7 linked regions of the Homo sapiens genome follow. The gene in region 1 interacts genetically with each later gene. Each region holds a gene or a part of one and is shown in the gene's direction. Other genes may lie near its edges. The genes, in order: XRN2, COPS5, CARS1, SNRPD3, RBM17, HUS1 and EIF3H.

Region 1 (4,708 bases):
GATGTCAGAATAATGTTGACCTCAAATTGAGTTCCTTCAGTTTTTTGGAAGAGTTTGTGTAGAGTTAGTATTGTTTCTTCCTAAAATGTTTGATAGAATTTACCAGTGAGGCCATCTGGACTTGGAGTTTTGTGGGAAGGCTTTAAGCTGCAAATTAAGTTTCTTTAGTTGATCTAGAACTATTGAGGTTACCTATTTATTTATTTATTTATTTTTTGGATGAGCTTTTTTAGTTTGTATCTTTCACAGATTTTGCCCATTTCATCTAAGTCAAGCTTGTCCAACCTGTGGCCTGCAAGCTGCATGCAACCCAGGATGCTTTGAATGCGGCCCAGCACAAATTCGTAAACTTTCTTAAAACATCATGAGATTTATGCACAGACCTTTTCTTTTTTTTTCAGCTCATCAGCTGTCGTTAGTATTAGTGGCCCAAGACAATTCTTCTTCCAAAGTGGCCCAGGGAAGCCAAAAGATTGGACACCCCTGATCTAAGTAGTTGAATTGGCTGACATAAAGTTGTTCATAGTATTTTCTTACTATCCTTTTTTTTTTGTTATTAAAATGTTTTCACTCCTGTTTTTACTTCTCTTTTGTTTTCTTTTTTCTTCCTGTTAACTTGTTATTATCCTTTTAATATTGTTAGAATCTGTAGTGATGTTACCTCTTTCATTCCTGATACTTGTAATTCTACTTTCTTTGTTTTGTCCCATTATCAGTCTGGCTACACTGTTCTCAGATAACTAGCTTTTGGTTTCATTGATTTTCTTTATTGTTTTTCTGTTTTCTATTTCTTTGATTCTGCTCTTATATGTATTTGTTATGCTTACTTTGGGTTTAACTTGTTTTTTCTCTTCCTTGTTTATTAAGGTAGAAGCTGAGGTCATTGTTTTGAGACATTTCTTCCTCTCTGATATAGATCTTGAGTGCCATAAATTGCCTTCTAGATATTGTTTAAACAGTGTGCCACAAATATTAACATGTTGTATTTTCATTTTCATCCACTTAAAAATATGTTCTAAAACTCCCTTTGGCCCGCTGGTTATTTAAGAGTGTGACTTAATTTTCACACACATGGGAGATTTTCCAGGTATTTTTTCCTGTTCGTGATTTTTAATTTAATTCCCTTATCAGAGATCATATTTAATTTGAGGTCTGTTGAAGTTTATCAGACTGGTTCAGAATATGGTCTCTATAAATGTTTTATGTGTATTTGAAAAGGATACATTTTCTGCTGCTGTGAAATTTTGACTATAACTTTTGGATTTTTCTGTTTCTCCTTTCAGTTCTATTGGTTTTTGGTTGTGTATTTTGAAGCTCTTTTATTAGGTGCATAAATGCTTAACATTGTTCTAGTTTTTTGGTGGATAATACACTTATTATGAAATGACCTTCATTATTCTTGGTTAATATTTGCTCAGAAATCTATTTTATTTGTCATTAATACAGCCAGTTATTCTGACTAGTGTCAGCATGGTGTGTTTTTTTCTATTCTTTTATTTTAGCCTGTTTGCATCTTTATGTTTAAAGTGGACGTTTTTGTAGGTAACATAACAATTGGGTCTGGCTTTTTTTTATTTTTATTTTTTATTTTTTATTTTTTTTGAGATGGAGTCTTGCTGTGTCGCCCAGGCTGGAGTGTAGTGGCGCGATCTCGGCTCACTGCAAGCTCCGCCACCCGGTTTCATGCCATTCTCCTGTCTCAGCCTTCCGAGTAGCTGGGACTACAGGCGCCCGCCACCACGCCCGGCAAATTTTTTTGTTTTTTTTTAGTAGAGATGGGGTTTCATTCACTGTGTTAGCCAGGATGGTCTTGATCTCCTGACCTCGTGATCTGCCCGCCTCTGCCTCCCAGAGTGCTGGGATTACAGGCGTGAGCCACTGCGCCTGTCCGGGTCTGGCTTTTTTATACAGTTTGAGAATCTCTGCCCCCTCTTTTTATTGGGATAAAACATACATAAAATTACCATTTTGACTGTTTTAAAGTGTACAATTCAATGGAACCAAGTATGTTCAAATTGTTGTGCAACTGTCACCAATGTCTATTTCCAGAACAATTTTATCATCCCAAACAGAAACGCTACCTGTTAAACAGTAACTCCTTGTCCCCCTCCCCACTTTCTATCTTTATAAATTTGCCTATTCTAGTTACCTTATGTAAATGAAATCATAATATTTTTCCTTTTGTGTCTGGCTTATTTCTCTTAACATAGTGTTTTCAAGGTTTGTCCATGTTGTTGCATGTCTCAGAATTTCATTCCTTTTTAAAGCTGAATGATACTCCCATTGTATATGGGAGTATATGTCACACTCTGGACACTTTGGCTGGTTCTACCTTTAGTCTATTATGAATAACACTGCTATGCACATTGGTGTACAAGTATCTTTTTTAGTCCCTGCTTTCAGTTCTTTTGAGTATGTACCTGTGAGTGGAATCATTGGATCATGTAATTCTGTGTTTAGCATTTTGAGGAACCACCAAACTGTTTTTCTAGTCTGCTTTGTAATTGGGCCATTTAGAACATTTATATTTAAAATGATTATTGATGGCCAGGCATGTTGGCTCACGCCTGCAATCCCAGCACTTTGGGAGGCCAAGGAAGATGGATCATTTGAGGCCAGGAGTTCGAGAGCAGCCTGGACAACATGGTGAAACCTCGTCTCTACTAAAAAAGTAACAAAAAAAAATTAGCTGGGCATAGTGGTACAACACCTATAAACCCAGCTACTCAGGAGGCTGAGGCACAAAATCACTTGATCCTGGGATACTGAGATTGTAGTGAGCTGAGATTGTTCCACTGCACTCCAGCCTGGGCGACAGAGCGAGCCTCTGTCTCAAAAGACAAAAAAAGATTATTGATATGGTTAGATTTAAATCTGTCATCTTACTATTTGTTTTCTGTCTCATCTGTTCATTGTTTCAGTTTCTTAAGTCTTATGCCTTCTTTTAGGTTGTGTTTTTTTTTGTCTTTTTGAGAGGAGTTTCACTGTGTTGCCCAGGCTGGAGTGCAGTGGCGCGATCTCAGCTCACTGCAAGCTCTGCCTCCCAGGCTCACGCCATTCTCCTGCCTCAGCCTCCCGAGTAGCTGGGACTACAGGCGCCTGCCACCATGCCCAGCTAAGTTTTTGTATTTATTTATTTTTTTTTAGTAGAGACAGGGTTTCACCGTGTTAGCCAGGATGGTCTCTATCTCCTGACTTCCTGGAATTACAGGTGTGAGCCACCGTGCCCGGCCTTAGGTTGTGTTTTTATGATTTCATTTTATTCCCTTTGCTCACTTATTAAGAACTCTTTACTGATTCAGTCATCAGCTTCTTCACTTCATATACTTTAACTGCTTGGCTCATGCAGTCCTCCATTTATCAGCTTTCTGACCATCGGAAAATGACTTAAATGCCTAAACTCTAGAGAGCCAGAGCTTCTTGTTAAAACCAAACCCCAAGATTTTTTTTTTTTTTTTTTTTTTTTGAAGACAGAGTCTTGCTCTGTTGCCCAGGCTGGAGTGCAGTGGTGCAATCTCTGCTCACTGCAACCTCTGCCTCCTGGGTTCAAGCCATTCTTCCTCAGCCTCCCAAATAACTGGGACAACCAGTGTGCACCATGACGCCTGGCTAATTTTTGTATTTTTAGTAGAGGTTTCACCACGTTGGCTAAGCTGGTCTTGAACTCCTGACCTCAGGCGATCCGCCTGCCTCAGCCTCCCAAAGTGCTGGGATTAGAGGCGTGAGCCACCATGCCTGGGCCCTAGATAAATTAAATAACACAGTTCAATTGAGCAATGAACAGTTTGCCAGTTGAGTGGCCCTCAGAACCAGAAGAGGTTTGGGGAGCTCTTGAAAACAGAAGTGAGGTACAGAAACAGCTTAATCTTTTGGCTTATTTAAACATGGCCAGATAAGTTGGCAACCTGTGATTGACTGAAGCTCGACTGCTGCGATTGGCGGAGACTCTGCTTTTTGTTACAGAAGTATGCTCCTAAGTTAGGCTTTTCCTTAGTGGACTTTATGTAAGTAATATTGCAGTTCTTCAAGTGAAGAATCAGTAAGGAGCCATCCTCAGGCCAAATTTGGTGTAAGTTAACACACTACGCTACACTGTGCTGCTCCCTACAGTTTCCCCCTCTGGTCATCTCTGTGCAAGGGCTGAAAGCAGAAGGCTGCGTGTCCTCATTTGTTGCCAGCTGGGAATGTGTATGTTGGGTGACTCAATTTTTCGCTGCTCTGTGCATGTCCACAAATGACTGCGAAAGTACCATGATTATTAATTTTGGGGTTAAAAATAAATTTCAGTGAGTAGACATATTTGCAAATATGGGATTCATGAATAATGAAGATTGGCTATGTATGTATCACAGAGGGTGGTTGTGTGGATTAGATGTATTAATACCAGTTACAATCCTGTTACAGAAGCATTTGCTAAATGGCAACTATTTGGAAAATCTGATTTCAGAATTTTATTTGGTAAATTAATGTTTAGTAGTTTATGTGTCCAAGTAAAGGCAGAGATGTTTTTGAGTCTAACTCTTGGTAATACTGCGTTGTAGTGTACAGTGTGGTCTTACTGTTCTCATGTAATGAAATCCAGGTTTCCTCCACTGCCTCTTTTCTCTCTTCCATTTCATTGAGTACTACTTTTGTGATAGGCATCACTCTGAGGGAAGGGAGAAAAATCATAAGGTGGACATTTATCCTTGACCCTACATTCTATTTT
Region 2 (4,708 bases), on another chromosome or scaffold:
TACCTTCCATTCTACTCAAGCACCTTCCAAGAGTCCCGGGTATCTACAGGATAAAGTTTAAATTTCTTTTTTTTTTTTTTTTTAAGACAGAGTCTTGCTCTTGTTGCCCAGGCTGGAGTGCAGTGGCGCGATCTCGGCTCACTTCAACCTCTGCCTCCCGGGTTCAAGCGATTCTTCTGCCTCCGTCTCCCAAAGTTTGGCCGAGCACTGTGGCTCCCAGCACTTTGGGACGCCAAGGCGGGCAGATCACCTGAGGTTGGGAGTTCAAGACCAGCCTGACCAACATTGTGAAACCCCATCTCTACCAAAAATACAAAAATTAGCTGGGCATGGTGGAGGGAGCCTGTAGTCCCAGCTACTCGGGAGGCTGAGGCAGGAGAATCGCTTGAACCCGGGAAGCAGAGGTTGTGGTGAGCTGAGATTGTGCCATTGCACTCCAGCCTGGGTGACCAAGCAAGACTCTGTCTCAAAAAAAAAAAAAAAATTCTTAACCTTTTGTGTAACATCCTTCACCACCTAGACCCCAGCATAGCTTTCTAGCTTCCCCTCACATAATTCTTCTCTTGCTAAATTTTCCAGCTAAACCCATTGCCTTATTATCTCTTACATGTCTTTCCTTTTTGTGTGTTGATGCTCTCTGCCTAATGCCCTCCTTGCTCTCCACATATCCATACCATAGACTCAAAAATGTTTACCCTACACCTTGCCTTTTCCCTGAGGCTTCTCAGGCAGTTCTAGCTTGAGCTCCTCTATATGAAGAATACTTATTATCTCTAACCCTTAGTTGGTAGGTGATTCATTTTATATAGCACTGTAGCATCACTTATTGTTATTCAATGTATATCATTATATTTAATTTTGATGTGGGTTTAGACCACATCCCCCATATAAATGTTGAGTTCCTTAAGGTAAAGATGTCTCATGCTTTTTTATATCCACTGATACACAGAAGCATGTGTAAGTTTAAGATGTAAGTTTACATCTTAAAAATATATGTATTTTTCAGACATTTAACTAGATTTTTCCTTACTATGCCCTGATGATAAATTAGGCACCTTTGAAAGTGGGAGCAATTATTTTAGATGCCTTAAGGACCTACCTTAAAATTTGCTTTTCAAAAAGCAGTAGGTCCTAACTGGGGAATTAGGAAGGGAAGAATGGAATCCACATGTCATTTTTATTATTTTAAAGAGGCTAACAAAAATTATAGTTGACCCTAGAGAGGCAGCTTATTAAGTTTATGTGCTGTTGGCTTGAATTTATGAACTCAGTAACAGGAATAAACTTGTCATTCAGAAGTTTTGACTGGTTGTTAATAACATTTGGGGAATTTCTGGGCTCTACAGAAAAAAAGGAATAAAACAAGAAGTTTAGTAGGAGATTTGGATCCACAACCCTTGAAGTGTGAGGAAACCATGGTTAGCTATTGCCTTATTGGAATAAAGACTAAAATGTGAATATTTGAGAATAAAGTGTAACTCACTTAAATCTGGCCATAAGTTTTATGTGACGTAGTTGAATTTTTTTTTTTACTTACTAAATTTTATGCTTTTATTTCATAGATATTATGCCTTAGAAGTCTCATATTTCAAATCCTCTTTGGATCGCAAATTGCTTGAGCTGTTGTGGAATAAATACTGGGTGAATACGTTGAGTTCTTCTAGCTTGCTTACTGTAAGTACTATACTTGTAAAGAATGCATTTGAATTTTATCTAAGCTTCATAGCCGTTTAATATCTGAAACACTGTTTCACAGAAAGGCTATACCTGACTTGGCCAAGACACCAGGGCTAGGGTGGGATTCTGCACCACCACAGCTGGATTAGGATTCTAGGCCAATTCAGGATCTGTGTCATGACCCACAGAGACCAAGTCTAAGTAGCAAACAGAGTGTCCAGATCAGGGTGAGATCTGCCCCTGCCATAAGGAGATTTATGGATTAAAAAAATACACATATTGATTTTTGTGTATCAAGTGTCTCAGCTTGGACTCTGGTTACAAGTAACAGGATACCTAATGAAACGAGCTTAAACAAGAAAGGGAATTGTGTAAGTTGCAAAGTTGAGGAATAGGGCTTAACTCAGGCACAGCTAAGTTTGCATTCAACCAATATTATGAGGTCTTTTTTTTTTTTTTCTTTCTCTTAGCATTGATTTCATCTTAGTTAACGCTAGTTTCAGGCTTCATGTGAAAGCAAGACGGCAGCTTTAGCTTTAGACCTCCAAGTCTCTCAGCTTCATGTTCAAAAAGAAGGTCAAGATACACACACACACACACACACACACACACTCTCACACTCACATATTTCCAGGTCAAGATACACACACACACACACACACACACACTCACACTCACATATTTCCGGGCAAAACTTCATTGTGTCTGACTGGCTTTACTTAATCACATGCCCATGTTTAGGCCTGGTGTGGGCCAACTGAATAAGCTTGATGAGCGGCTTGCGCCACGGCAAGTGCTTTACTGCTGAGCCGCAGCGTAGAAAACTCCTTCAGGAGCTCAAGGACTAAAAATGGGGAGGAGAGGTTCCCAGAGTGAATCAGAAGAGCATTACTTTAAAGCAGTAGATACTAGGAGAAAAAAAAAGAGGCCGGGCGCGGTGGCTTACGCCTGTAATCCCAGCACTTTGGGAGGCCGAGGCGGGCGGATCATGAGGTCAGGAGATCGAGACCATCCTGGCTAACACGGTGAAACCCCGTCTCTACTAAAAATACAAAAAATTAGCCGGGCGAGGTGGTGGGCGCCTGTAGTCCCAGCTGCGCGGGAGGCTGAGGCAGGAGAATGGCATGAGCCCCGGGGGGCAGAGCCTGCAGTGAGCCGAGATCGCGCTACTGCACTCCAGCCTAGGTGAAAGAGTGAGACTCCGTCTCAAAAAAAAAAAAAAAAAGAGAGTATCACTGAATTTTTTCTGATAATATCATAAAAACTTAACATATTTGGTAGGATATTATTTAACAAACTTCTCTATATTTAGAACTTAGGAACAATTTTTTTATTTTTCTAAAAAAGTAGGCCATTTCATATACTGCAGTATATATAGTGGTTAGAACCACAGGATTTAGAATTAAATAAACTGGGTTTGGAGAATATGAGCTACAGCAGCAGGAGTCATAGCAGGACCGGCACTTAGAAGTTTCTTATGCTCTTTGATGGAGTATTGGTTGAAAGGAGTACAGCTGAAACTGTAACCAAAGGAGGCATTACGCTTCCAGAAAAATCTCAAGGTAAAGCATTGCAAGCAACAGTAGTTGTTGGATTGAGCTTTCAAGGAAAAGGTGGATTCAACCAGTTAATGTGAAAGTTAGAGATAAAGAATTATTCTCCCAGAATATGGAGGCACAAAAGTAAAGAACTACTTTGCAACTCTTCAGGTTTATTCAGTTGACCTGGAAGGCCAAGGATTTTTTTTTTTTCTTTTTCTTTTCGAGACAGGGTCTCTGTCTCTGTTGTCCAGGGTATTGTGGTGGCACGATCTCAGCTCACTGCAGCCTCAACTTCCCAGGCTTGAGCGATCCTTCTGCCTCAGCCTCCCAAGTAGCTGGGACTACAAGGGTGAGCCACCACACCTGGCTAATTTTTGTATCTTTTTGTGGAGACAGGGTTTTGCCACGTTGCCCAAGCTGGCGTTGAACTCCTGGGTTTGAGCAATCTGCCCGCCTTGGCCTCCCAAAGTGCCATTACAGGCCGTGAGCCACCATGCCCAGCCAGATTATTTCTTATTTAGAGATGCTGACATTCTTAGAAAGTATGTAGACTGAAGTAAATCACTATTGAAATGCCATCAACATGAAGCTGCTCATTGCACTTAAGTTCTGAAATATTTAATTATGTAAATAATTGCCATGTCTCTTCTATAATAAACAAATGATATCTATACTAAAAAATAAAACTGACTTTGAAAACAACTCTGCCACTTTACTAGTTCTGAATGACTTTCAGAAAGTTATTTAATGTGACTAAGCATTTCTTTGTTGTAAAATGTTGATATGCTACATACATCATTAAGTACTCTGAGAAAATTAAATGGGCTACTTTATATAAAGCAATTAGCAAAGTGTCTGGCATATAATAAAGCCTCAATTAATGATTTTTTTTAATTTGGTGCATTATATTCATGGGAAAAGACCTCACTTAAGCCTATTATTTACTGGAATTTTTTTTTTTTTTTTTTTTGAGATGGAGTCTCACTCTGTCACCCCGGCTGGAGTGCAGTGGTGCAATCTCAGCTCACTGCAACCTCCACCCCTCCAGGTTTAAGCAGTTATCTGCCTCAGCCTCCGGAGTAGCTGGGATTACAGGTGCGTGCCACCACGCCCGGCTAATTTTTTGTATTTTTAGTAGAGATGGGGTTTCACCATCTTGGCCAGGCTGGTCTTGAACTCCTGACCTCGTGATCCACCCGCCTCAGCCTCCCAAAGTGCTGGGATTACAGGCGTGAGCCACCGCGCCCGGCTGGAATTTTTTTTAGGCTAGTCAAGTGAAGCAGTGTATTTACTGTTATTTTAAATACAACTCTGACAAGCTTTCTGTTCTTTTTTTCCTTTTTTCCTTTTATTTTATTTTATATTTTATTTTATTATTTTATTTTACTTTATTTATTTTATTATTTTATTTTATTTTGAGACAGGGTCTCACTCTGTTGCCCAGGCTGAAGTGCAGTGGTGCAATCACATCTCACTATAGCCTGGACCTC
Region 3 (3,705 bases), on another chromosome or scaffold:
TTACCTGAGCTCAGGAGTTCGAGACCAGCCTAGGCAACATGGTGAAACCCCGTCTCCACTAAAATACAAAACATTAGCTGGGTGTGGGCTCCTTGGGCAGCTGAGACACGAGAATTGCTTGAACCCGATAGGCAAAGGTTGCAGTGAACTGAGATCGTGCCACTGCACTCCAGCCTGGATGACAGAGCAAGACTCTGTCTCAAAAAAAAAAAAAAAAAAATCACACACACACAAACCAAAATGTTCTCCTGTGCTTCACTGCTGCTATGGAGGTTTTTGTTTGTTTTTCTCCTGTGGGCCCTCGCTCTGACTGGGCAGCACCGCATGGTCTGGGCAGGGCAGGGCAGGGCAGGGCTGGCCCCGCAGTGGGGACGGCCCACAGAGCCCAGACTCTTCTCACACGCAGTTTATTTTGCAGGACTGCCCACAGTGGTGAAACTGGTAGACAGAAACACCTTATTAAAAGAGAGAGAAGAAAAGAGACGGGTGAGTAAAGTGAAAATGACTTAAGCGTGATATTTGTTGAAAATGTAAAAACCATTGCGATTATTACATAGTTTACTTTTTAAGCATTGATGTTTACACTTTTATTAAAATCCCAGTATTTATAAATGTCAGAAAGAAAAATTAACTAGTATCTTCTAATGAAGGACCTCTTTTAAAAAGATTATTCCCTCAGTTTAAGTGAAAACCAGTCACTTTTGGCAAACTGTGAAGCTGACTTTTTTTTTTTTTTTTTTTTTTGAGACGGAGTCTCACTCTGTTGCTCAGACTGGAGTGCAGTGGCACGATCTTGGCTCACTGCAACCTCCACTTCCCTGGTTCAAGGGATTCTCCTGCCTCAGCCTCCCAAGTAGCTGGGACTACAGGCACGCACCACTGTGCCCAGCTAATTTTTGTATTTTTTTAGTAGAGATGGGGTTTCACCATGTTGGTCAGGCTGGTCTCAATCTCCTGACCTCGTGATCCACCCACCTTGGCCTCCCAAAGTGCTGGGATTACAGGCTTGAGCCACCACGCCTGGCCCGAAGCTGACATGTTAAGATCCCAGTCCCACCGTGCCCTCACCTGAGTGGCGCGTGTCACTGATGCATCTCCACCTCCTATTCCCAGCATACTCCCCACCTGCACCCCACAACGCCCCCAGGATCAGGGATGGCCCAAGTTCCTCGGTGCCCAATAGGACAGAAGAACAGGAACAAAAACGCAATGTCAGAATCTCTGGGCACAGCGCATGGGGTACCCTGGGATGCAGGCAGCAGGATGAGAGGCACCTGGGCCCCCAGTGCACACCATGGGAGGTGGGCCATGGGGGCTGTTGCCACCAGCAGGTGGGTCCCCAAGAGGCTTAAAGCAGGAGACCACCGTGGAGGGCGAGTTTGGATGCCACAGCTCTCAGGAAGGAGGCTCTGGGAGGAACTGAGGAAGGAGAATCGACAGGGTGGTTGATTGATAGATGGGATGTACAAGGTCAGGGAAGGCATCTATGCCTAGCCCTGCACTGGCCCAAGGCACGAGGGGAGAGCTCATGCCAGATCCAAGTGTGGGTGGCTGGAGTTTGCAGTGCTTTGGAGGAATAACGAACTGGAACTCTGGGGAAAGCTCTAGACAGTGGTGAGTGGTCTGCAGGTCCATCCTGGTTGGCAGGTTGGGAAGAGCTGGGCTTGCCCTGTGAGGTTGGCTGGTGTGACTGCCTCATCAGGGCCCCTCCCCATTCCATCACAGTCACTCACCTAGCCTTGGGTCTCGCCTGCCGTGCTGTGCTGTGAGGTGGCCTGGTGCTGGCTGTGCAGACGCCCTGGCTTGCTGCACTCCCTGGCAGAGTGCTCAGAAGCAGGAAACAGACAAGAGGAGCGCCAGGGTGGCCCGGCCAGAGCCTCACAGGCCTTGCACTCTTTGTGCTGGCCTTTCCACTGGCCACCTTGGCTGTGGCCTGTGACTTCTAGTAGCTCCTGTTTCCCAACCAAGGGACTCTTACCTCACCAAGCTGCTGCAAGAAGGCATCCCCAGGCCCGAGGCACCATGGGGGAGGGGTCCTGCCTCTCCCTGTACCATTCCCACCAGCACATAAACACATACTAACTTTTAAAGGGAAAAAGCAGAAATCCTGAGCACTGTGTCTCTGGTTCCTCCAAGCTCAGTGCCCAGCTCCTCCCCCACCTCAGCCCCTTTCCCTCGGCCAGCCCTGCTCTCCCTCCATCTATCTCGAAAGAGCTCGATCCTGTTGGCCCCAGCCCCATCCTGAGTCTCTGAGACCTTTGTGCCTTCCTGGTTTCTTTTCCCTAGCTCTGTGTGTGGCGCCTCCCCAGGAGACCTTATCTGGTCCTGCGGCTTCTCCACCATCTATCTTGTAGCCGGTGGCCCAAAAACAGTTTGCCCAGCTGCCTACCTGATAGCTCCACTGGGCCAGGAAGCCTCTGATATCTAGGCTGTCCAAAGTAAATGTGATTTTCAACTCCCCAAACTTGTTCCTCCTTCCTGCCATGGAGGGCGTGCCTACCTGATAGCTCCACTGGGCTGGGAAGCATCTGAAACCTAGGCTGTCCAAAGGAAAGGTGAAAATGTGATTTTCAACTCCCCAAACTTGCTCCTTTTCCGTCAGTGGAGGGCATGTCTGTTCGTGCAATGGCTCAGGCCAGAACCTCCCAAAGCAACCGAGGGCTTCCCTCACCGGCACCCAGCCTGCTGGCTCCACTAATAAGCTCTCCCTGCAGCATCAGACTGTCCTCGCCCCTGCCCGGGTGCTGCCTGCTGGTTGGAGTGGGCTCTGGTCTCCTCACCTAGCCCCCAAGGCTGCCCTCCGCCCACCATCCCCATCCTGCCCTGGCGCTCTTGCTCCTTCCCAGGTACCCCAAGACCCACTCAGGATAACCCTCACAGTGCTGTCCTGGTCATTGCCTTACAGATCCTCTCTCCTTGGGCCAGGCTCACCATGCTGGTCCATTTCTTCATGTTAGTGGTGCCTGGATCTTTTAGCATTGGTTCTGTTTGTCTGCCTGCTGCATACCTTTGCATCTAGGGCAGGGCCAGGCACCCAGGGGTGCCGCTGAGGATCCCCAAAGGGAATGGAAGAGGGTCGGTGTGCTGCCCGGCACATGGGCTTGTCTCCCCACAGTGGGGAGGGCCTGGTCAGAGTTCAGCCCTCCATGCCAGGCCCTAGGAGAGGGGCTTGTTTGGCTAGACCTCTCACTCCGAGAGACCCAGCAGCCTGAGGCAGCCCTGTCTCATCTGGCTCTGTATTGACCCTCCAGGTTGAAGAGGAGAAGAGGAAGAAGAAAGAGGAGGCGGCCCGGAGGAAACAGGAACAAGAAGTAATGCATTTTGTTTGGGGGTGAGGGCTCTACTGGGCAGGAGTGCACCCTGACCCCATGCCCTGTGGCTCTCTGTGCCTCCGTGGACCTTAGCCAGGCCCCTGCAGACCCTCACAGAAGGAGCTCCGCTTTCTGCCTCCACCACCCAAGGCCTGCCAGGCCCTTCTCACATGGGGTGCAGGGAAGGCCTGGCCAAGGGGAAGGCTGTGCCATGTGGTCACAAGCTCCAAGACAGCGTTTATAGACTTACTACTATTAGGTTTTCTAGTAAGCTTTCCACTATTCCTGTAGAAATAACATCTGGTTTAATTTTAAATTCCTTGTATGTTCCCTCCACCTTGGCTTTCCCCTTCCCATCTTTCATAGCACTCTGAATCTGAGGGCTTGGAAGCAA
Region 4 (4,708 bases), on another chromosome or scaffold:
TGTTTTTTGAGACGGCGTCTTGCTCTGTTGCCCAGGCTGGAATACAGTGGCGTGATTTTGGCTCACTGCAACCTCTACCTCCCGGGTTCAAGTGATTCTCCTGCCTCAGCCTCCCGAGTAGGTGGGACTACAGGCACCTGCCACCACACCCGGCTAATTTTTGTATTTTTAGTAGAGCCAGGGTTTCACCGTGTTTGCCAGACTGGTCTCAGGTGATCCACCCACCTCGGCCTCCCAAAGTGCTGGGATTACAGGCATGAGCCACCGCGCCCAGCCCCAAAACACATTTTAATTGTCAGTCAGATTCAGGTGAGCCTGAGTTGTATCCAGTTTCTGTCTTGGGTAGTCTGACCATAAACCTGGCGTTCATTTGTGGCACTAGAGGTTATGGTATTCTTCAGGGGAAGAAAAGGATTGGTAAGGACTTGGGAACTGGATGAAAATTTAATAACAGGCTGGGAGTGAGGAGCCTGGAGCAGAAGGTTTATGAGAAACTGGAGCCCTGTTGCCCCTGAAGGTAGAACAGGGATAGTGGGTAGAAGCTCTAGAAACCATTCCTCTAGAAACTGCTCATATACAACAGGGGCGGCCCCAGAGCATAGTTTTGTTTGTTTTATTTTTGAGAGGATCTTGCTCTGTGGCCCAGGCTAGGGTGCAGTGGCTCCATCACAGCTCCCTGCAGCCTCGACCTCCCAGAACCAAGTGATCCTTTCACCTCAGCTTCCCGAGTAGCTGGACTACAGGCACATGCCACCACACCCAGCTAATTTTTGTAGAGATGAGGTCTCACTGTGTTGCCCAGGCTGGTCTCAAACTCCTGGGCTCAAGTGATCCTCCCACCTTGACCTCCCAAAGTGTTGATATTACAGACATGAGCCACCACACCTGGCCCATAGTTGTTCTTTTCTGAGTGTTCAAGCAGAGGCTGGGTGGCCAGTTAGCACTTGAGGAAAAGAATGAATGAGTATAAGATGGCAGCTAGCCAGACAGAAATCTGCAGAGACAGCACATCTTTCTACAATAAGGGCTGACCCATTCTAAATAAATTATAGTTCTCTCTCTTCAGAAGGTTCATACAATAAGCTGCTTTTTCTGTAAATGTGGTGCTTGTTGAGGTTGATGCTGGCAGATTGGTATCACCCTCCCATGCCAAGCTGGTCTCACCTTCAGGCTCCCCATTTGTCCATCCTGCAGTCTATCCTTGTTGCCACATTTATCTTTCCTGAGTGCTGCCTTAACCCTATTGATCTTTCCTCTATCGACAAACTTGACTGACTCCTTTATCTGAAGTAACGACCCCGTCCAGTGTCATTATTCGACTGCTCTGGTCCTCACATCCTGTAGGCTCCTGCCCAAGTGCCTGCTCTTTTCCTTGTGCAAGCTCTTGCCTCATAACCCTCCAGTAATTTCAGGCCCTTTTTACAGGCCTTGTGGTACCACCTCCATTTCTCAGTCCCTAGTCACTCAACCTAGAGGGTTCTGTCTCACCTTCTAGAGTATGCACTCTGGAGGGTCAGAACCACATCTGGTATATACTTGTGACCTTCATGGTGCCTTTGAAATCTGAGTGCCAGGCAGTGCAGGGGAAGACAGTTTGGACCAGCAGTTTGAAGCTGTTTTCGTTAGGGTTTAGCACCTTCAAGAGCTCTTCACATCTTTGCTCAGCAGGCAGTGCAGCACAGCCAGGGCTCTGAAGCTAGGCCAGCTGGTTCGAATCTGGAGTTCCCTGCATTCCAGCTGTTTGACCTGGGATAACTGCTTTGGTTTTTTTAACATGTAAAGATGGGAGCACTCGGCTGGGCGCAGTGGCTCACACCTGTAATCCCAACACTTTGGGAGGCTGAAGCGGGCAGATCACCTGAGGTCAGGAGTTCGAGACCAGCCTGTCCAACCTGGTGAAACCCCACCTCTACTAAAAATACAAAATTAGCCGGGCATGGTGGCGCATGCCTGTAATCCCAGCTACTCAGGAGGCTGAGGCAGGAGAATCGCTTGAACCCGGGAGGCAGAGGTCACGGTTAGCCGAGATTGCACCATTGCACTTCAGCCTGGGCAACAAGAGTGAAACTCCATCTCAAAAAAAAAAGGGGGGGAGCACTCATACCCACGCTGAAGGTGTTGTGAGGACTGTTTAGGTAAAGTGCTCAGTGCAGTCCCTGGTGTACACAGTTAGTACCGATGATTGCTGGGTAATTCACCAGCTTTGTCACAATGTCAGTCTGCTTTTCTGGACTTCCCCCTCCCACCAGTCAAGGCCCTCCCCACCGCTGGTGCTGTTGACCGTTAACTTATTAGCTGGTGATTTCCTTCCAGATGTCCAACATCACAGTCACATACAGAGATGGCCGAGTGGCACAGCTGGAGCAGGTATACATCCGTGGCAGCAAAATCCGCTTTCTGATTTTGCCTGACATGCTGAAGAACGCACCCATGTTAAAGAGCATGAAAAATAAAAACCAAGGCTCAGGGGCTGGCCGAGGAAAAGCTGCTATTCTCAAGGCCCAAGGTAGGTGCTTTTCATGCACAGGTTTTAAAATATAGGTTTGTCTTGTGTCTTGTAGAAAGGGGCCCTATTACTGCCTGGAGACAGAGAGGGTTTGACCTCTGCTCTCTCCACACCCACCACCCACTGCCACCCCTTCCCCTTGCAGCGTGGAGTGATCCTGTGAGGCCATTATTTTATTTTTTTGAGACAGAGTCTCGCTTTGTCACCCAGGCTGGAGTGCGATGGTGTGATCTCAGCTCACTGCAACCTCTGCCTCCCAGGTTCAAGCAATTCTCCTGCCTCAGCCTTTCAAGTAGCTGAGATTACAGTGCGCACTGCCCTGCCTAGCTAATTTTTTTATTTTTAATTTATTTTTATTTTTATTTTATTTTTAATTTTTTTTAATTTTTTTATTTTTTTGAGATGGAGTCTCGCTCTGTCGCCCAGGCTGGAGTGCAGTGGCGTGATCTCGGCTCACTGCAACCTCCGCCTCCCGGGTTCAAGCAGTTCTCTGCCTCAGACTCCTAAGTAGCTGGGATTACAGGCACCCGCCACTGCGCCGGGCTACTTTTTGTATTTTTAGTAGAAACGGGGTTTCACCACCTTGGCTAGGCTGGTCTTGAACTCATGACCTTGTGATCCACCTGCCTCAGCCTCCCAAAGTGCTGGGATTACAGGCGTGAGCCACTGCGCCCGGCTTATTTTTATTTTATTTATTTATTTTTGTATTTTTAGTAGAGATGGGATTTCACCATGTTGGTCAGGCTGGTCTTGAAGTCCTGACCTCACATGATCCACCTGCCTCGGCCCCCTGAAATGCTGGGATTACCAGTGTGAGCCACCGCACCTGGAGAGGCCCATCTTTTCTAGAAGTTCTGTGTGAGAGGTGTGGGATCGCTTGCCCTTGTCTAGTTTGCCGAGCAGACACAGCCCGGAGCAGATGAGCTGACTCGAGTGTGAGGGCAGCATTTCCTAGCGAGACTGGGTCTTATGGATGGACACCAGCATGTACTTAGGGAGGTCTGATAGTGGAGCTCCGTTTTCAGAAATAAAGCCACCTTTTAGTACATTCCAAAAGTGGGACTGTCCTTTTCGCAGTCCCCTAGTCTGGTCTTGCTTCTTGGTTAGCCTAATTTGGTTTTATATTTAGGTTCATGAAAGTTCTGTCATGTTGATTAGACAACAAAGTAATTGTGGCCCTTGGAAACTGTCTTAGTGTTGGTAAAAAAGGTTTGCAGCCAAGGAAGGCACTGGATTCTTCATTGGTATCTTTAGCTGCTGTACATGTTTTATATGTGTGTGAGGAAAAAAGTCAAACTGTGTTTTTCCTCTGCTCTCACAACACAACAATCAACAAAGACTTCTGTGACCAAGCAAGCAGTCAGTTCTGCAGTAGACACCAGCTGGGTGTCCTTCAGTTCTGACACTATCTACCTGGAGATAGCCTGAAAAACCACAGGTTGAGGGCTCGGTCCCACAAGACAGCCCCTGCACCCCCCACTATTATTCATAAGCACAGGCCTCCAGAACATCTGAATGGCTTCAAGCCAGGGTTCTCACGTCTCACTCCTTGGGTTCGATTAATTTGCTGGAGTAGCTCACACAACTCGGGAATCACATACTTAAATTTACTGGTTTATAACAGGATATTTTATAGGCTACAAATAAACAGCCACATGAAGAGATGCATAGGGTGAGATCTGGAAGGGTCGCAAGCACAAGAGCTTCTAGCCCCATGGAGTTTCCTCCCGGCACATGGATGAGTTCTTGTTCACCTTCCTGTCAGGCTGCGCATGATCAGCTGTCCCGAAGCTCCCCTAACCCTGCCCTCTTGGGCCTTTTATGGAGACTTTATTGGATAGTCATGATTAAAGGATGGACAACCATGTGGAAATGCCATTAGACAAAATGGGTGTGATCTAACACTAATAGACGGGGTTGGGAAACCCCGCGAGGCCTGTCCAGATTCTTTTTGGCCTCTCTCTGCAGCATTTGTTCCTCCAGGGTATAGGGCAGGACCTTTCTCTGGAGTGAGGTCTTATGACCCACAATCAGATTAGGGTCCTGCCTTGGGCAGGTGAAAGGAGGGCAGGAGAAGTTTCAAGAGAGAGATTCTGTCTCCTGAGTCCTGCTTCTGAGGCCTAAAGTGCCCCAATGTTATAACAAAAGACTATAACAAGGACTATAGGAGTTACGAGCTGGGAACCATAGATGAAAGCTCAA
Region 5 (3,665 bases), on another chromosome or scaffold:
AACTTCATACTTACTTTTTGATAGCCACTTTTTAATAAACTGTGGTCATAAGCTATGTGGCAGTGCAGGTCCGGAGCACACAAAAGGTCTTGTGTTTCCTAGCAGGGCACTGAGGAGACTCCACCAGAGAAACTGACATTTCCCCTCCAAGACAACAGGATGTTCTGGATTTTATTCATAGCTTTTTCTATTTCTTTCATGCTGCACATCCCCACAGCTTCCATCTAATAGCCCACTCCTAGTTAATGAGTGACTTTGTTGAAGCCCCTGTGGAGCATGCACTCTCTCCAGAAGGAGGTTGTTGTGATGGAAAAATGCAACCTATCTCCAGTTGACGATGTCAAGGCTAAGAGTCCTTTCCCTTCTTCTCCTGCCAGGGGCACGGTGGCGCACAAGATCATGCAGAAGTACGGCTTCCGGGAGGGCCAGGGTCTGGGGAAGCATGAGCAGGGCCTGAGCACTGCCTTGTCAGTGGAGAAGACCAGCAAGCGTGGCGGCAAGATCATCGTGGGCGACGCCACAGAGAAAGGTGTGTCCCCAGGGAAGCGTGTGACTAGAGGGAAAGGACTGGCCCCATCCATATCAGACATGGCCAGTCTTGATCCTCATGTGTCAGCAGGGGGACAATGAGGCGTGTGGCCAGAGGGAGAGGGCTGGCCCTGCCATCACTAGAACACAGGCCGTCCTGTTCATATGATGCACTGCCACTTCCGTTTTGTGAAACCAGGAATCCTGAGGCTCATCTTTATTTTTTCAGAACAGACGTAGAGAGATGAAGGCTTGTGGAGGAAAAGATGGTGAGAGACTTGGGCAGAAAATGAGTAGTCCTCAGGAAGAAATCTTGGTTATGTGTTTAGAGCATGAAGGACAGAGCCATATAGTGTGGCAGTGAATATACCTGCTATCTCCATCTCAGAGGTCGTCTCTACTTTTCCCTTTTGCCCTTTCAGTATAGATGTGATTTCTGATTCTCTTACAGATTGTTTGCTTTGCGAGATCTGATGTTATGTTGCAGTCTCTTGGTAAATGATGCCTAGTTGGTGTTTTATTTTCATTTAATTTTTACAGTCTGTTCTGTGTTGAGGGAATTCAGGAAAGAGACAAACATATGTTAGCATTTTAATCAGGGAATTAAGTTTGAGTCAGCCTAGCTGAACTTCCTTTGCTAAAGAAAGAAGAAAACTTTTCTGGCAGCCCCGTTCATGCACAGCTTAGGATACATCACGAGCCTGACAGGTGAGTGCCAGAAACCAACAGTTGTCCCGACTTGTGAGGTTATCTGAAGTAAGGCAGCCGGTGGCTGGATTAGTAACTGCATATTCCCCTGGGCCCGTGACCTTGAACGTTTGCTCCAAGTCAACTCACCTATAGGAATTATCACTCACATGCCCTGTCAGCCCTTTGGGAAGTGAGATGAGCAAAAATTGCAAGTAATGGTGGAGGCTCAAAACATCCAGATGCTATTGTAAAAACATGCCAAAGCAAAGCAGAGGCTTTTATTGCAGATAAGGCTGTGTTTTCGCTCAGAGACCAATTGTGTAGATGCCTAGGACATAAATGGTGGGGATCGCTATTGAAATTAAATTAATTATTGTAAGTAGGACTCAGTTCTGTAACACATCTAATGATATGCTGCTCAGTTCTGTAACACATCTAATGGTATGTTTTGATACAGATGCATCCAAGAAGTCAGATTCAAATCCGCTGACTGAAATACTTAAGTGTCCTACTAAAGTGGTCTTACTAAGGGTAAGAAGCTGAGGAAAGCAAGCTCTCTGCCTGCCTAGATTTGTGTGTGTCACCCCAGCCTACCCTGCTCCCCCTAAAAGTTAAAACTGAAAATGATACTTTTGCAAATAATACTTTGGGCAGATCCCACGTAAGGCTGATTTTAGATTTTTCACTAATGTGTAAGTCTCTTTGCTAAGTACAGTGTTTAAGACTGCAGTGAGTAATTAAATATTTGAAATTGCTAGAGCTTCAGATAGTTTATACATTTTGGTGCTTGCATAGATGCTTTTGTAACTCTTTACAGGCTTAATATATGTTTTAGTGTTTTAAGAAATACTAACTTTTGGGTACTTTGGGGATGAAATTTTTCATTATGTCGTTTGGGATTGAGAACATTTACCATCACTAAGTCATATTTATATACCTCTGCTAGGTGTTTGTAAGTTATACTTGGTACTTGAATTTGTTTATTTTTGTGTTTAAAGAACATGGTTGGTGCGGGAGAGGTGGATGAAGACTTGGAAGTTGAAACCAAGGAAGAATGTGAAAAATATGGCAAAGTTGGAAAATGTGTGATATTTGAAGTAAGAGTGTTTTCTTTTGATGTTTATAACACAAGTTGTAATTGGCACATTACAAAACATTTTCTACAAACAGGACAGGGTATGCTATAAGTAACATTCTTACTGCAGAAGGTGACAGGCGTTGGTTATTTGTACTTCTCTTGCTCAATTATTACAGTTTTAAACATAAAGACAATGATTTCAAGTTTTATTTGATGAAGAAACAGGAATGCTTCATGATTGAGGATCAGTATGATGACTGAAGACCTTGATTCTAGCGTGCTCAGTAGTTTAGTTCCTTAGACATGCCTTTGGTTTCAGTCATTTGGTGAGTATTTAGTGCCTCTCACATGCACTGCACTGTGCGGAGAGCACTTGGATTACAGGAAGCATGCTCTGTACTCTCAGTGGTGTGTTCAGTTGAAGAAACACATAAAATAACTGAAAGATATTCAGTTACTAGACTAGGTAGTATTGACTAAGTTCAGGAGTTGAGAAAAGGATTAGATCAGTGAAAAAATAGACTGCCTTGTGAGCAATAGCAGATATGGGCTGCGCTTTGAAACGAACAGGTGGGATTTGCAGGGAAGGGTATTCTGATTGGGATAATGGCTCGTAGGAGACAGTGAAGATCAGGACTACCAAAATGGAATGGATGGGCCTGTTGGGGATTAGCAGAAGTGCTTAGGTGGGTGGAATTACAGAGGGCTAGGAAAGCTAGACAGAGCTAGTCAAAATGAGACCTGATGTGAAAGGCCACTAGGGCACCAGCCTTTTTAATCTGAAAGCTCTGCTTCCTCTGTTTCTTTATCCTGTTGCTGTTTGTTGACCACATAATTATTTGTTTACGTCATCAGCTGGCACAGGGCCTTTATGAGGTCAGAGACTGCCTAGCCCTGTGTTCCTGGCACCTAACAATGCCTGTCATAAAAACAGGCATTCAGTACGTTTTTGATGATGAACAAATTATACTTATTTCCTTGGTATTTGACAACTACTTGACTGTATATGATGATAATTAGAATATCCACTCTGAGAAATCATTTAAAAGAGAAAACTCATTCAATGCAATCTCAAATGCCTTTACTCATCACGCTCTCATTTTCTTCCAGATTCCTGGTGCCCCTGATGATGAAGCAGTACGGATATTTTTAGAATTTGAGAGAGTTGAATCAGCAATTAAAGGTTAGTGGTACAGCTAAATATTAAAGAATAAAAAAGTTGAATTTACAGCCTTAATCTTTACAAGTAAAGTTACTGTTTAATTAAAGTTAAACCTTTATCTTATAGGATACCTGTATTAACTGTCTTTTGTTTGCCTTTCAGCGGTTGTTGACTTGAATGGGAGGTATTTTGGTGGACGGGTGGTAA
Region 6 (4,708 bases), on another chromosome or scaffold:
ATGCGAGGTGTGACTGATGGGGTGGGTTGTATGTGACTCATGCAGGAGCAGAAAAAGAAGCAAGAACTGGAGGGAATTGACATCATGTTCTAAGACATTGCTTCTAAGTTCTACCATGCGTGTGAATCCCCTGGAATCTGGTTAAAGTGCAGGTTCTGATTTGGGAGGTCTGAGCTGGAGCCTGAGGCTCTGTTTCTGACCAGCTCCTGGGAGATGTCGATGCTGCCTGTCTTCAGACCACATCATGTAGCAGTACTTTGTGATGTGTGCCTGTATTACTCCGTTTTCACGCTGCTAAAAAGATATTACCTGAGACCAGGTAATTTATAAACAAAAGAGGTTTAATTGACTCACAGTCCTGTATAGCTGAGGAGGCCTCAGGAAACTTACAGTCATGACAGAAGGCAAAGGGGAAGCAAGGCACGTCTTAACATGGCAGCTGGAGAGAGAAGAACACAGGAAAAACTGCCATTTTTAAAACCATCAGATCTCATGAGAACTCCCTCACTATCAAGAGAACAGCATGGGAAAAGCTGCCCCCATGATCCAGTCACCTACCACCAGGCCCCTTCTCAGCACTTGGGGATTACAATTCGAGATGAGATTTGGGTGGGGTTGCTGAGCCAAAACAAACCACATCATTGCCATACTATATTGTACTTCAAATGTTATCTGAGAAACGGCTCTGCAGGGTCACCTAATGATAGAAACCAGAGTCTATGTTTAGGAGTCATGATATGGAAGAGGGGAGTCATTGGAGCCACATACCTGGGTTCAGCTCCAGGCTGCGCTGTGCAGTGAGTACCCTAGTGCTGGATACTACCCCAAATGGGGATAACAGTGCAGCTATGACAGGGGCTTCGTCAGTTTTTAAAAATTTAGAGATAATTTTTACTAGGTGCCCAGTATAGTCAGCATTCTATAAACAATAGTTGACTATTTTAAGGAAATCATTGAAAGATCTTACCCTGATACTTAAGAAATCAAGTGTGTTGTTGTGTATAATATCCCAAATAACTGAATCTTAAAATAGACATGAGTGACCAGTGTTCAGAGAATTAGTTGTTTGTTAGTTTCTTCAGTAAGTATTGACTTAAGGCCACCATGTGCTAGGCACCAGGTGTTAATGGTTAGGAGGGAGTTGGAATCTAATGTTCTGTTACTGAGATTCTTAGGAATTTGAAGAAAACACAAGAGAACATTTAAGCCTGAAGTGCATCTAGGCCCATTGCAAGTTGCATTTTTAAATAAGTATTTATTTATTTATATCTAAAACCATTGCTTTTCAAAACAATGGGAATTTACAGATCTTGGGTGTGTGGTTGTTTGGAACAAATGAGCTAAGGTCATGTGTTAGCCTTAGCCCCACTAAGCAGTCTAGCATATTCACAAAGATTGTTTTATATATTTTATTTCAGTCAACTATTGTTCCAGATTGTAGGAAAACGGGTTAGGAAATATAACAATATATTTTTTTGGATTAATGAAAGAAAAGGGTTGAAAATGAGTATTTCTCATTCAAAGTAGATTATACAACAGGTAAGTTTGGGGCACTATTTTTCTATTAATGTGAAAAGCTCAGAAATAAGAGCTCACCCAAATTAGAAAAACTTTGTTTCTGGAATGAAAACTATTCAGAGTTCACCAATTTTAAGGAATAAGAACAAGGAACACTAAATTGTATTCAGTAAACATGAACACTGATACAGAGCCGTGCAGACAGAGTGCCTTCTCTGTTTTCTTTCTGTGACACTGTGAGGATGGAATGGCCCTAAATAAGACCAGTTGCTAGGTGGCACTTTTCTAGTACTAGATGGCAAAATGCTATCCAGCAGACTACACACTGGCTTTCCAGAGACCTCCTAGGCTTTAACATTGGGCAGATATCAACATCAAAAAGAGAAATAACAGGTACTGGTTCTTTTAGGAGGAAATTTCATTGTAGGTGCGGGAGTGGACCAGGATAGGTTAGCAAAACCTCAAACCATACTGTGGCATATGCTTCACTTCTAGGTTCCATCCAATTAAAAGAACTGATTGGTTGTTGGGGTGGGTAGAGGAGCTTCAAAGGAAAGGAGTCCCTTGTGACCTGTGGAGACAGTCCCCGGGCAGCAAGAGCAGGAGTAGAAGAGGGGTGCCCGATGGTATATGAGGGGATGGCAGAAGTCTGGTAGCCTGGGCGTGTGGAGTTTGGCTCAGCCATCCTCAGTCCTGGTAACCCAACAGCAGCCCCAGACCCTTCTGGATTTGGACATTTCATTTTCCAACATGTGAGTTTATTTTCTAAATAAATGGCTATGTTCTCATGAGATTCTGAAGGCCTTATAGTCATATTAAATGTGTGTTTATGACAAATGGTTGATTTATATTTTATAAAAATAAGACACTGATTTCCACATTCTTCTCATTTTCCCCCTTCCTGTTTTGTAATGGTTATATTATGTCTACATCATCAGAGCATAAAATTTTATTACTACACGTTATTCTGTCCTCTTCATTCCTGTTGTTTAGTTTTGGTTCTAAAGGTCAAAATAAGGCTCACACTGTTTATGCTGTAACTTCTCCAATGATTTTTTTGGTTATTAAAAGCCTATTCTCTAGCATATCACTCAAGAAGGACTCACAGGAATAGGATTTCATTGGTTATCATGTGTTTATAATGTCAGTTTGGCTCACTGCACTGCATTGTCTGCTGGTGTATATTATTGCTATCAAAAAGAATGACTCCATTCTGATTTTGTTTCACAGCTTGGATTTATTCATTTGAAAGTGGGGACTAAATACCCTGGGGATTTTTCCCATTTTTCTTTCAATCCAATTGTCTTGACCATCCGGGGTCAGTTTTCCCAGGTGTGTGGTGTGTCCTTTCAATATGTGGGCCGAACTCTTCATTCACTTCAGGAAAGTTTTGAGCTGTAGTTGATAGCATTTCTTTTCCAGTGCTTTGTTTTTCTTCTGGGACTCAGAGGGCTTGGATCTTCTCCACTGTCTTTATTATTTTCTGTCAGATCCTTTTAACTCTTTGTTTCTGTTTGGTAAATTTTATCTTTCTCCTTTCCATCCCAGTTTCTCTTACTATTCTCTCTGTGGTGCCTATTTGCTCTAGTCTTCCTTCTAAACTAGTTTCTGTTTCTGAAATTTTTCCTTATGTTTCTAATTACTTCCTGTGCTGTCAGCTGTGTTTTATGTGCGTGCTCTCTGGTCATCTCATGTCTGAGCTTCCCTAATTCTGATTTATGTTGTTGTGTCATAGCGTCTATTATTGTTCATTTCTCTTTTTTTTTTTTTTTTTTTTTTGAGACAGAGTCTCGCTCTTTCACCCAGGCTGGAGTGCAGTGGCGCAATCTCGGCTCACTGCAAGTTCCGCCTCCCGGGTTCATGCCATTCTCCTGCCTCAGCCTCCCGAGTAGCTGGGACTACAGGCGCCCGCCACCACGCCCGGCTAATTTTTTGTATTTTTAGTAGAGACGGGGTTTCACCGTGTTAGCCAGGATGGTCTTGATCTCCTGACCTCGTGATCCGCCCGCCTCGGCCTCCCAAAGTGCTGGGATTACAAGCGAGAGCCACCGCGCCCGGCTGGTTTTTCTGGTTCTTTTAGGAGGAAGTTTCATTGTAGGAGTGAAAGTGGACCAAAATAGTTTTCTAATTTAATGACTCTAGAATTCTCTATTCTTTGTAACCACAAAATATTAAAACATGCATCCTCACCACATCCCCAGGACTTTCTGAGATCTGTCCCTCTTTTTCCTTCATTTAAAGTTTCATTCCCTTTTTTTTGCCCAAGGTGCCCATTCTGCTTAGTTGAGGCTCTTACTTCCCGTGGTTCCTTCTCAGTGCAGGACTCTCTCCTGCTGTGAGGGAGTTCTCATCAGCTCCACCCAGCCCTCCCTAGAGCCCTGCCCTTGTGCTGCTGTAGTCTCCTGGCAAGTCCTCTCGGAGTTCCACCTGTTTTCACATCTTCACTGAGTTCTTCATTCCGGGAGGCAGGCAGGGGGACTTCCCCTTTGAGATTTTTGGGAGATTTCTGAGTTCTTGGCTCTTGGGCCTTATCTTCTCACTTTCCCTGATAGCACGGGGGTCTCAGTGTGCTCTGAGGTGTTTTGAGGTTTTGTAGGGTACTTTGTCATCTGGTTGTGTGAAAGCTGTTGCCCATGGAGTTTTTTTCCTTTTGGCTTCCTTTTCTAAGACTATGTAAAATACTCAATTTGCAGGTTATTGAAGCAAACCTAGATGGAGAATTGAATTTGAAAATAGAAACTGAATTAGTATGTGTTACAACTCATTTTAAAGATCTTGGAAATCCTCCATTAGGTAAGTTTTCTAGTGGGTTATATTTTGCTTTGGATAAGTTAATTGTTTCAGATAACCTACCTGTTGAGGTCTCTTCATGTAAAAAGGTTGAAATTCAGTTGACTTTGTTTCATGCTTGGGTGAAGAACAAAGGAATTGAGACTGGACTATGTATCCCTGTGGTGTAGTGGGGCAGTTAGCCACCAGGGGGAGAAGCTGTGCCACCAAGTAGCTGACAGATCTGTGCAGGGTCTCCATCCTCTGTAGAATTCGGATCAAGTTACATAACCTCCAAGATCCCTTCCAGCTATTCAATTCCTGTCCTACTCCTAAAGATTTCTATTTCTCACCTGGCATGGATTCAGAAAGGTAGATACATTTGTTCTTATATTCTCCTCCTTCAGTTACTTCCATATGT
Region 7 (4,708 bases), on another chromosome or scaffold:
ATTATGTTTGATAGGAAATTATTCTAGTTCATCAGAAAGCTTTAATATTTATTTTGGTCAAATTTGAACTGTTCCCTGTCATGGAACTGAGTCTTTGATATGATTTTGATAGGGAGGTCTTAGAGATTCTGTTAAATCTTTCCCTTTAGGAAGGATGAGAGATTTTACCTGCCATCCTTAACTCTTCTAAATTTTAGATTTATTGACTTATAATGTTATTTATTTGGCTATTTTAGATTGGTATTTATATTTTACCCTATAATACAGAGAATACTTGTCATAGAAGTTAAATCCGTTCTTGCTTTTAGATTTTTGGGCAAAGATAGGTTTTAATTTTTTTTTTTTAAAGCCAGACACTTTAAAAAGTAGCATTGTGTTCATTAGAGATGGCGTATAGTCTGCTTTGCTTTTTCAAATAGTTTGCACTGAATAATGAACAATAGTAGAAAACTGTTCCCTGCAGGGTAATTTCAGCAGACAGGACATCTGTTTACTATCTTGCAGGTTGGGATTCCTTGAAGATCTGCCCAACTTGAGACTGTGTAAACTTCAGAAATCTGGGAAACAGTTTGAGAGACAACTGACCTAATCAGAGAACAATACTTACTGTTTAGGGCACATAGAGTAGTTTAAGCATTTACACCCAGAACATGACAAAGTTTCAGAAGGTGTAGAAGAATTTGCTAAGTTGGGTTTCTACTGGCAAGTTTGCTTCTGTCCCTTGAGGCATAATTCATGGAAGAATCCTCATTTACCCACTAATTTATAGGGTAAACAAATCTAGTCAGCATCGGTTCTTAACAGTCTTAGATAACGGGGTCAGATGCTAAGGTGTAAGTCTTACTGTGCTGCAGAAAACATGAATGTTTCAAGATGGGTTGCTGGTATTACCTTCCCTCTTGTTTATATGCTGTAGAGATTGTTCCAACTAGGGCTTGAATTCCTCTTATTAGGGTGATATTTATGCTTTTATAAACAACATGTTCACTTTTGGGTCTGTATTTCTCAGTGCCTTCACTTTTCAGCAACCCACGAAGTCTTAAAACAGAGGAAAGGAAATTGGGGTTTGACCAGCAGTGTATTGTAGTCACCTGAGGAGTTACAACAAAACAAAAACAAAGGAAAGCTAGGCCATACAACTTCATTAGAAATTAGAACTAAATAGGATGTTAGAGTAAGTTGGAGAACTAAAAACAGACACCACCTACCAAACCCAGTATAGGAACCCAGCCGGTATCAGTTAGCTGAATTTCAGGAGTGTGCTCACGCATTAGTATACTTTAAAGCTCCCCAGATGGCTCTAATGTGTATCCAGAATGAGGACCCCTCTTCATTTATCTAAAAAAAGCTCTTTAGGTGATTTTGCTCAGCTGGGAATGAGTAAATAGGGCTCCTGAGTGTATATGTATCACAAATGTGGGGTCATTTGTGATACATATAAGCAAAATATAACAGGAGAGTGTTTTTGTTTTGAAGAATGGTTAAGCTTTCCATGTGTCTTTTTCAGCCTTGCTGTTATCAACATATTTGGTGCACTCAGTTTGGTATCACTCATTTATTGTGAAGTAATTAGAAGTGCTTTGGACTCAGAAGTCAGATCTCACTTCCCTGGCTAAATTCCCTGTCAGCTTATCTTTGTTTCCTTATGTAAAATGGGAAAATAATATAACTGACTTCACAGGGTGGTTGTAAGGATTAAATGAGTCCTTGCACGTAAGACGGTGGAGTGCTTGACATATCATAAGTGATAAGTGTTTGCCATTCATTCCTTCAGCAAAATATATTTTGAGTATCTTTTATGTGCCAGTATCTGTGTTAGGTGTTGAAGATGTGGTGAGTAAATCATCCTTTCATTTTTATGGGAACATTCACGAGGGGAAACAATGAGCACAACATGGATTCTGTCTCTATTAAAAGATACTTCGAATCTATGAAACTTTGAAATATATATACATGGCAAATTCTTGGTTATCTATGTAGAATAGCAGAAGTATGTATGTCATTTAGTTATATTTAATCAGGAATTTCCTTTCCTTTTAACATTTAAATCAGTGTCTGCAACCTTTCTGGCACCAGGGACTGGTTTCGTGAAAGACAGTTTTTCCACGTGGGGGGTTGCGGGGATGTGAGAGGATGGTTTCTGGATGACACTGTTCCACTTCAGATTGTCAGGCATTAGATTCTTCAAAGGAGCATGCAACCTAGCTCCCTTGTATGTGCAGTTCACAGTAAAGGTTTGTGCTCCTATGAGAATCAGTGCCACTGGTCACCTGACAGGAGACAGAGCTTAGGCAGTTTACCTCCTGCTGTGCAGCCAGGTTGCTATCAGGCCACAGAGCAGTTCCCGAGCAGTACCTGTCCGTGGCCTTGGGGTTGGGAACCCCTGCTCCAAATGAATCCTACTGTAAGGCATTTCCATGACATTACTTCTTGAACTAAAGAACTGAGGTTTTAGTGTGTATGTAGGAAATAGGACGATCATAAAATGTCACAATGAAGAATGAGCTAGCTTAGTTTTGATAATAGTGATTTTTTCCTGAGTACTTTATCAGATTATATTAAAATGACAAGATCATAAATATTAAAGTTGGAAATTATTTTAGTGATTGAGTCTTTCCTGAATGCTTTCTTTTTTGGACAGCCTTCAGTACTAGAGAGAATTTATCCTTAGAGTTGAAATCTTCTTTCCAGAAACTGTCACCTGTGGTTCTTAGGTTTTGCCTTCAAAGTAAGACTAATCCTCTAAGCAGCCAAAGAACTCTTCAGTATTTGGAAAGTGCTTTTTTTGAGTGTCCCTTGCCTAGAGAGAGATTTGCATTAATTTTACTGGTTCTCATCACAGGATTTTAAGCTTTCTCTCTTGTAATTACCCTTTTCTGTGGATTCTTACTCATACTGATTGTTTTTTGTGCTTTTCTCATTTCTTAGTTTGGTACTGTTACTGGTAAATTTTCTCTTGGGTCATTGTAAAGAACTGAGGATAACAGTTCAGTGATGTCGAAAGAGCGAGATAATTATTTCTTTTACTTGGAGCGCTGTATTCTATTGATACTACATAAAATTGCATTGGCTGTTTGGCAAGCATGTCAAGCCTGGTGTGCTGTTTGGTTACATTATCCTTACTGATCCCTTTAGAATTCACTTTTGTTAGAGTTAAGACAGTTTTCAATATAGTTTGAACTGTAATAACTTGTTTTAAAATATATTAATTTTTTTATTGCTATTTTCTTCATAACTGGAAATGAGGTTATTTTCATCTGGCTTCTTTATGAAACTGTGCTGGTCCTAGTCACCAGTATTCCCTTTTGCATATGTAGGAATCAGCTGTTTAGGAATCACTTCTAGAATTTGTCTGAAGAACTATGTTAAGCTCATATATCTTCTAATATCTCTTGTTTACTTTGATTTCAGTAGTGGTTTAGCAATCTCATTAGTAGGGGTAAGTATAAAGGAATCTAGGTAACCTAGGTGAATTGGTAGTTGTGTTTGTAATAACTCTTTATCAGTTTAGTTTATCCCGTCTTGATCACCTGTATTTGTTCTATTTTTTAAGTGTAGAAATAATTTTTCTTGGCAGAGAGGTATGTTGAATAAGCATTAAATAGTTATTGACAAATATCAACAATATTGGTCATTTATTGAGCACTTACTATGTGGCAGACTCTGTGCAGAGAACTCTATACTGTGTCATTTTTAGTAGTGTCAGTAATGCTATGAAATAGTGCTATTTTGCAAATTAGAATCTAAGGCTTGAGAAGATTAAATAGCTTTCTCAAGGTCACAGCTAGTAAATGCTGGAGCTGGAACTCATACCCATACTTGTATGACTCATCAAGTCCATTTTTGTGCCTTTCAAGAAGTGGAGAGGTCTTTCATACAGGAATGTGTAGGTTGTGCACTTTCATTTCGTAGTATTGAAGGTCTGCCAATCTTATTAGTTGGTGTTACTCCATTTTGAGCTCTTTTCCCTGCTGACTGCTTGCTCTCCTTTGGAGTTCTGTATCTTACTGGTGTAGTCTTTTTGGGTCTATTCATAACACAGTTTTTACTGCATATCTGTTGTCTATTACTACCTGGTTATTTTAACTATCAATTTAGTTACTAATATGAAAATCATCTCCCAGGTTTAAAAACTAGGTTTAAAAACCTACTTTTAAACCTAAAACTAGGTTTAAACTAGGTTTAAATCTTGGCTCTACTACTTCCTAGATGTGTGACCTTTAGCCATTTACTTAATTTCTCTCTGCCTCAGTTTTCTTATCTATAAAATGAGTATTAACAGTACCTTTCTCCTAAGGTGGTTGTGAGAATTACATGATAGGGTAATACATGTGAAATAATTAGATTATTGCCTGTCATACAATGTTTAGTAAATGTAATGTGCTGTTATTAACTGGTCATTAGTTTCTTTTTTTCTTTCATAATTGGTTTATTGGTCGTGTTGATGATCAGTACACAGACATTTCAATTTGTACACAATTCTTAACATATATACTGAAAATCTAAAAAGCCATGTGTTGTAATTTTTAAAAAGTTATTTCAGTGACTTTCCAGCTTAAAATTGGGAAGCAAATTTTCCATAAGAGGCTATCAAGTACCAGTATCTTCACATGTTAGTAAGCTGTTACATAGATCTCACCAATTCACAGTATAATACCATATAGACTACATACTCAAATTTTCAATCTTCCACAGCACATTAACAAAG

The links.
Region 2: changes in XRN2 (region 1) and COPS5 together harm fitness more than expected from each alone (negative genetic interaction), as found in Homo sapiens cells (one large-scale study listed by BioGRID).
Region 3: changes in XRN2 (region 1) and CARS1 together harm fitness more than expected from each alone (negative genetic interaction), as found in Homo sapiens cells (one large-scale study listed by BioGRID).
Region 4: changes in XRN2 (region 1) and SNRPD3 together harm fitness less than expected from each alone (positive genetic interaction), as found in Homo sapiens cells (one large-scale study listed by BioGRID).
Region 5: changes in XRN2 (region 1) and RBM17 together harm fitness more than expected from each alone (negative genetic interaction), as found in Homo sapiens cells (one large-scale study listed by BioGRID).
Region 6: changes in XRN2 (region 1) and HUS1 together harm fitness less than expected from each alone (positive genetic interaction), as found in Homo sapiens cells (one large-scale study listed by BioGRID).
Region 7: changes in XRN2 (region 1) and EIF3H together harm fitness less than expected from each alone (positive genetic interaction), as found in Homo sapiens cells (one large-scale study listed by BioGRID).

What each region holds. Positions count from the first base shown.
Region 1 is NC_000020.11:21,309,161-21,313,868, forward strand, and holds part of XRN2 (5'-3' exoribonuclease 2), read left to right. Parts: intron 1-4,708. UniProt on the Homo sapiens protein: Possesses 5'->3' exoribonuclease activity. May promote the termination of transcription by RNA polymerase II.
Region 2 is NC_000008.11:67,048,196-67,052,903, reverse strand, and holds part of COPS5 (COP9 signalosome complex subunit 5), read left to right. Parts: intron 1-1,562; coding exon 1,563-1,674; intron 1,675-4,708. UniProt on the Homo sapiens protein: Probable protease subunit of the COP9 signalosome complex (CSN), a complex involved in various cellular and developmental processes.
Region 3 is NC_000011.10:3,002,147-3,005,851, reverse strand, and holds part of CARS1 (cysteine--tRNA ligase, cytoplasmic), read left to right. Parts: intron 1-418; coding exon 419-486; intron 487-3,251; coding exon 3,252-3,311; intron 3,312-3,677; coding exon of another isoform or gene 3,678-3,705. UniProt on the Homo sapiens protein: Catalyzes the ATP-dependent ligation of cysteine to tRNA(Cys).
Region 4 is NC_000022.11:24,565,671-24,570,378, forward strand, and holds part of SNRPD3 (small nuclear ribonucleoprotein Sm D3), read left to right. Parts: intron 1-2,313; coding exon 2,314-2,506; intron 2,507-4,708. UniProt on the Homo sapiens protein: Plays a role in pre-mRNA splicing as a core component of the spliceosomal U1, U2, U4 and U5 small nuclear ribonucleoproteins (snRNPs), the building blocks of the spliceosome.
Region 5 is NC_000010.11:6,111,833-6,115,497, forward strand, and holds part of RBM17 (splicing factor 45), read left to right. Parts: intron 1-377; coding exon 378-529; intron 530-1,675; coding exon 1,676-1,749; intron 1,750-2,216; coding exon 2,217-2,315; intron 2,316-3,406; coding exon 3,407-3,479; intron 3,480-3,620; coding exon 3,621-3,665. UniProt on the Homo sapiens protein: Splice factor that binds to the single-stranded 3'AG at the exon/intron border and promotes its utilization in the second catalytic step. Involved in the regulation of alternative splicing and the utilization of cryptic splice sites.
Region 6 is NC_000007.14:47,968,822-47,973,529, reverse strand, and holds part of HUS1 (checkpoint protein HUS1), read left to right. Parts: intron 1-4,211; coding exon 4,212-4,311; intron 4,312-4,708. UniProt on the Homo sapiens protein: Component of the 9-1-1 cell-cycle checkpoint response complex that plays a major role in DNA repair. The 9-1-1 complex is recruited to DNA lesion upon damage by the RAD17-replication factor C (RFC) clamp loader complex.
Region 7 is NC_000008.11:116,727,859-116,732,566, reverse strand, and holds part of EIF3H (eukaryotic translation initiation factor 3 subunit H), read left to right. Parts: intron 1-4,708.